Linked DNA regions of Homo sapiens: region 1 is linked to region 2. The links come from fine-mapping of genetic effects on plasma protein levels. Region 2 holds a variant in brackets. A gene starts in the other region. All regions are shown on their reverse strands.

Region 1 (2,874 bases), not on the chromosome of region 2:
AAAAAGGAAGATTAAACACACATACACACACACTGCATTTGTAAATCTACAACTGAGTCAAAATTTAAACTGAAAGCTTCTTTTCAACAAATTATTTACTAAAAGATCATCAATGAACACAGCAACCCATAAATATGCAATCATAATACACCCTCTCTCAGCTCTGTTTTATTAGGCAGCAATATTTATTGTGTCAGCAAACGCAGTGCGTTTTTACTTGTTTCTGTTGATTTCCTTAGTCTTCCGAACCTGATAATTGTTTGATACAGCCATTTACCTTCACCCATTTATCACTTCAAAACATTGACCTCAACTCTTGTCATGAAAAAATTTATGTAGTATAAACTCAGATAGCTTGGCTTTTGCCTAAACCGAAATGAATTCCTTCTCCAGCGCCACACAGCATGCTGATCTAGCAACAAGTAGTCCTCTATCATTCTGGGGCTTTGCATTTGACTGCCTTAATGTATTTCCAACAAGGTTTTATAATGTGTAGTTTCTAACCAAATTTTGCCAAAAGTGATTGGCATGTAAAACACTCCTAAGCAAAAATGTTTACCTTGTAGGTCTATATTTCATCTCAGAAATTCTTATTCACATTACTTAATCTCCCCCAAGTGGTTACTTATTAGACTTATCATTAACTACTAAACTAAAATAAATGGAAACAAATTATTTTTTGAGTCTTCTAACCACTGATAGTGTTAACTAAGCAGCTGACAGCCAAGTGTCATTCTCTATTAAGGATGGAATTGTCCTTTCCGACTCATGCTTCCAAATCAGAAATAAAGACAGTATTTGAGGGTTTAGGGTATAACAGGCAAAGAAACCCGAGAAAGAAATCCAGAATTACATCTTGTCCTTATGTTTGTTTTTTGTGGCTGTCACCTCTCTTTCCCTTTGTCGCATACCTTATTCCTGACCTTCATACTTAAATCTTATCTCATCATTTTCCCACTGAGCTTAAATGACAGAACCAACGCAGAAAGTTTTGTTGTCCCAAGAATTTGGTTGTAGTAATCATTACTGGAAACAGACATTACAAACTGTCATTTCACCGAGACGTCATACAAAGCCTATCTGAAATTTACGTCTATAAGGATGATGTCAAAGATAAGAATTTCCAGCTGGATGAAATGGAAATTGCCAAAGTCCATAAAACTCAGAAATTAACTGGATTCAACTCACAAACTATGTACAGTTATGTGCAATTTTGTAATGATAAAGACAATTTGTAAGATCTGGTTATATTATCACATTTAATGGATTCACCTTATCAGAGAGAGCAGTTGAGTTCATATTACCTGATCTCCACACTTACCAAGCAGACACACATTATGCAAGGGTTGTCTGTGATAAATGGAATCTGGAGGACTTCACCTTCATTTTCACATTTTGCAACAGAACCTGAAATTCAGGGGGGAAAAATGTTTCATTTAAAGTTAGCTTAGCAGCATGATTTCAACATTTAAAATTTTTACACTAATCCTTTTTGAAACCTCTACCCAAACTTCAGAATTCTTAATGTGGTTTAAATTATTAAATTCACCAAAGCAAAACCTCTGCCCCCAACTCCATTTTCAATAATTTTATTTAAACAGGTTCAAAAAAGAAAAGACTATGATATAGGGATAAATTATCTGTTCTCAGATGGTCTAAGCACAATTCCAAGTATTTCACTGGATTTTTAATAACACTCCTCCTTTATGAAGATATTTCAACTAAGCACACAGCCCCATACGCAAAGAAAAAAATAAAAAATAAAATTTAAAAAAACCCTCAAATTGGGGCAGATTTTAAATTGACCAAAACTCAGAACTGAGTCAATAAACAGGCCTTTCTATGAATCTGTCTCGCATTGTCTTAGGTTTAAATCACTTTTTGAAACGCAATCCCCTTTTCCCTTCTCTTAGAAATTGACTCCATATTTTCTTTTCTGCACCAGGTGTCAGTAAAGTATGTCCTTCAGAATAGCAGCTGAGGTCTTCACCTGCCTGAAAACATATAATTATTATATCCGGCTATTAGTGCCCTTTTTAAATGATAGTTTCTTTAAATTCAAGGTCTTGAGAGCCAGTGCTTTAAAAAGCACTCCTAGCACAGTGGATGTATTGCAACCCCAAAGATGAGAAAGGAAGATGTGCGGAAAACTGCACAAATTTTTTTCCTGAGTTCTACAGAGGGAAAGATTAAAATAAAAGTTGAGGAAAGCATTAAAAATAAATAAAATAATTTCTCAAATTCAAATAGAAGAATGTCTATTATTACTACATTGAAGGCAACAGCCTCTCAGCCCGCAACCTCTTCACCAGCCTTCCCAGCCCTCCCGGGGCTTCGCTTCATCCCCATCGACCAGCGCAGGGCAAGCGCCAAGGTGCGCGCTCCCCACCCTCCCATCCCCGGGGCAAGCCAGCGCCACCTTTCCCAGGTACCAAACCGGCGTCCCGGAGGGCCGGTCCCTCCCGCCCCCTCCCCTACCTGTCAAGAAGGAGGAAGCCAGAGACATGGGGACCCCCGAGCAATTGAGTAGCAGCAAGACGCAGCACGTAATCCCAGGCGAGCGGCGGCAGTAACGCTCAGCCAGAGCCCCGACGCCGGAGAACCAGAGCATCGTCACCTGGAGGGAATCCCTGGCGACTGCAGGTCCCGCGCCGCCGCCTCTGCTCAGCTGCCGCAGCTCACAGTCGAAAAGGGCTCTCAGCCGGCGTGTCGGGAGACCGTCCGCGAAGGAGGGAGGCGGGCGCCCGAGAGCTGGGGGGCGGGGGGGTGTGAGGGAGGGCGGGGGGAGAGACCAAGGTGTGGGGGCGCCCGGGGAGGAGGGGTCCTGCGGCCAGGCTCCTCCGATGCGGCTTTTTTTTTTTTTTTCCTGAGGGA
Region 2 (2,911 bases):
CGCCAGCATCTCTCTCCTACTTTACCCTCCTAAGAGCATGCTCTGTCCCTCAGAACGGGTCTGAACCTGTGTTTACTACAGCAGCCCTTTGACTGTCTAAAGGAGCCACCGCAACCTCCCTATACGTCCCTCGTTCCTCCCTAGGTGCTTTTGTGCGGTGGCTCCCGCACCTGGTTGCGGTCATCCGAAGGCTGATTAGTTTGCCCGCGTTCTTTGGAAACTGTGCTCCCTGCTCCCTCAAAACTGACAGCGATTTTCCAGGTAGAGTGAAAGCAACATAAGCCACACGTGGGCAGTGTGGGGGCAATGCTGGAAACCTGGGCCGCTGACCCCATAGACCACCAAGGGTTGGCGGCTGCTTCAGGAACTGAAAGACGCGCAGGTCAGCCCAGCCTGGGATGACCCCTTCCAGAGGGGCCAGGCAGCCTTGACCAGACCTGGTGCTAAGTACTTGCTAAGCCCTGGGTGGCCTGTAGCTTCTCACTGTCCGGGGTAAAAGCAAGCCCTGGGCCAGAGTCTTGTACACTGGAATTCGTGGACACTGGTGGGGAAAACCACTGGCCTCTGAGCCTGGCATAGAAGGGAGAAGCCCGCCCCCTTGTGGATCTCTGGAGAGTAACAGGGTGCAAAAAGCACTGAAACCCCAACCGGAGACAGGGAGTCTCGGGGAGCAGCCACCTCCTCTCAGCGCTCCCATTTCACCAACCACCTCTGGGGACCTGCAAGAGAATTGATCTGTGCTGGCACGGGAGTGGTAGCAGGGGACATAAAAGGAAGCTAGGAAGTTGAGACCCCTGGATTATGTCTGGCAACAGCGAGTTAGAAATCGGGCAAGTGTTATTAGCTGTTTAAAAAAAGAAAGAAAAAAAATGGCATCTGGAGGTCTTTCCTGGTTCTGCCACTCCCTGTGTGGCCCCAGGAAAACTACAGTCTGTCTCTGGGCCTCCAAGGACCTTGCTAGGTAAAGGCTCCAATCCCTCTGAATGCTGAAGCCTCAGGCTTTCACATCTCAGTCCTGACAGTGGTCTGTGGTTGGTGGCAACACAGTCCTGATTGAAGAGAACATGGGAGGCAGCAAGGGC[C/A]AAGGGCATTGCGCAAGGGGAAGCAGAGGGCACCAGCTTGGTCGCCCACCCGCAGCAGCCCTGGACAGCACAGCACCCCTATCGCTACACCATGCTGCTAGGAGCCCGAAGGGTCATTTTCCAGAGTGAGTCCAAGAGGGGTCATGTCCCCTCCTTCCACAGTTTTGGCCAAATCTACATCATTTCTCCATCACGTGGACACCAGCCCAGAGGTGACTGTGCCATAAAACATACTTGACCCAGAGAGATGTGACCCAGGCCCATTGTCCAAGACAGCAGCCTTGCTCACATGCTTCCAGACTGCCTTTCCTCTGCACAAAGCACATGATCAAAGATTGTGTTTTTAACGTATTTTCAAGATGAATTCTTTGCTACTCTGTAACTGATCAGGATAATTGGGCTAAATCTAGCCCTGGGAAATGCAAACCAGAAGCACTTTCCTCGAAGCTCCCCAGATTAAAAAATGAATGATATGTTAAGATGGCTCAGATTTCCGACTGCACTACATTCGCAGAGAAACAGAGCCACTAAGTCAGCGAAGATAGTGTTTTAAAGGCCAGCTGTCCTCCAGAAGAATGAAAAGTATTAAAACTCTTTTAGATGGGGCACAGTGGCTCATGCCTGTAATCCCAGCACTTTGGGAGGCCAAGGCGGATGAATCACTTGAGGTCAGGAGTTCGAGACCAGCCTGGCCAATGTGGTAGAACCCCATCTCTACCCAAAATACAAAAATTAGCCAGGCATGGTGCCATGCGCCTGTAGTGTCAGCTACTCAAGTGGCTGAGGCACAAGAATCACTTGAACCCGGAAGGTGGAGGTTGCAGTGAGCTGAGATTGTACCACTACACTCCAGCCTGGGCTACAGGGCAAGGCTGTTTCAAAAAAAAAAAAAAAGCTGTTTTAAAATGGCTTTGTGCCGGGTGCAGTGGCTCACGCCTGTAATCCCAGCACTCTGGGAGGCCAAGGTGGGTGGATCACCTGAGGTCAGGGGTTCAAGACCACCCTGGCCAACATGGTGGAACCCCTATCTCTACCAAAAATATAAAAATTAGCCGGGCATGGTGGTGTGCATATATAATCCCAGCTACTCGGGAGGCTGAGGCAGGTGAATCGCTTGAACCCAGGAGGCGGAGGTTGCAGTGAGCCAAGATTGTGCCACTACACTCCAGCCTGGGTGACACAGTGAGACTCTGTCTCAAAAAATAAATAAAATAAAATTTAAAAATGCCTTTGTAGAAATTATCTGAAATAATTATGCCCTCAGTCTAGCATGCTCCTAGCTGGAAATGTCCAGGAAAAATGTTAGGGGTAGAAGAGTCATCTCTGCACACTATAGTACACTAAAGCTTTGGCTGAAACTACATAGCCTGAAATGTCTCATTTTTTAACGGCATTATGAGTTATTACATAAACATCCTTTAAAATTCAGAGCAGTCCAACAATAAGAACAACCCAAGTTCTACCTAAAAAACTATAGTCAGGTAGAATATGTAACTGTAGACAGAACACTTTTCAAACACCTATTTAGACCACCTGGTTTCTGCAGTATTGCCAAATTCTAAAATTGTAATGAAAAATGTAAAGTTTGAAACCTACAAGTCATCAGAGGTTCAGTGAGCAGATTGTGCCATTCCAAAACCAAAAATGTGCTTGCATAAGCAAGTCACTGGGGCTAACCTTTCTGGATTGAGAGTCTGGCCTTCAGTTCAGACTGTGGCTATGCCAGGGTCAGAAATGTGACAAAACTGCGCTTTCACGGAGGTTAGCCAAGGTTCACAGGGTCATGACTGGGCCATTTTATCAGTCATGTCAGGCTCACACCCTATTGC

Alleles and levels. Alleles are on the strand shown, and positions count from the first base shown. The strength of an association depends on the size of the effect and on how common the allele is.
In carriers of allele C in region 2, the plasma level of the protein whose gene starts at base 2,686 in region 1 tends to be lower than with A alone (weak association).

The links. A credible set is the group of variants that fine-mapping cannot tell apart. PIP is the posterior inclusion probability: the model's chance that the variant is causal. Protein levels are from antibody-based Olink assays in UK Biobank. Linkage for the fine-mapping came from a reference panel and not from the study's own genotypes, which makes the PIPs less certain.
Region 1: BMPER starts here. The variant in region 2 is the best candidate, but not a certain one, in a credible set for the plasma level of the BMPER protein (UK Biobank, PIP 0.61).

What each region holds. Positions count from the first base shown.
Region 1 is chr7:33,905,351-33,908,224 of GRCh38, reverse strand. BMPER (BMP binding endothelial regulator) reads right to left here and starts at 2,686. Exons shown (of 15, transcript NM_001365308.1): 1 at 2,479-2,686; 2 at 1,322-1,407. The coding sequence starts at 2,611.
Region 2 is chr10:93,078,139-93,081,049 of GRCh38, reverse strand. No RefSeq gene overlaps it. Among named protein-coding and RNA genes, the nearest start is that of CYP26A1, 5.7 kb to the right of the region's middle. The variant C/A (reference allele first, on the strand shown) is at 1,083.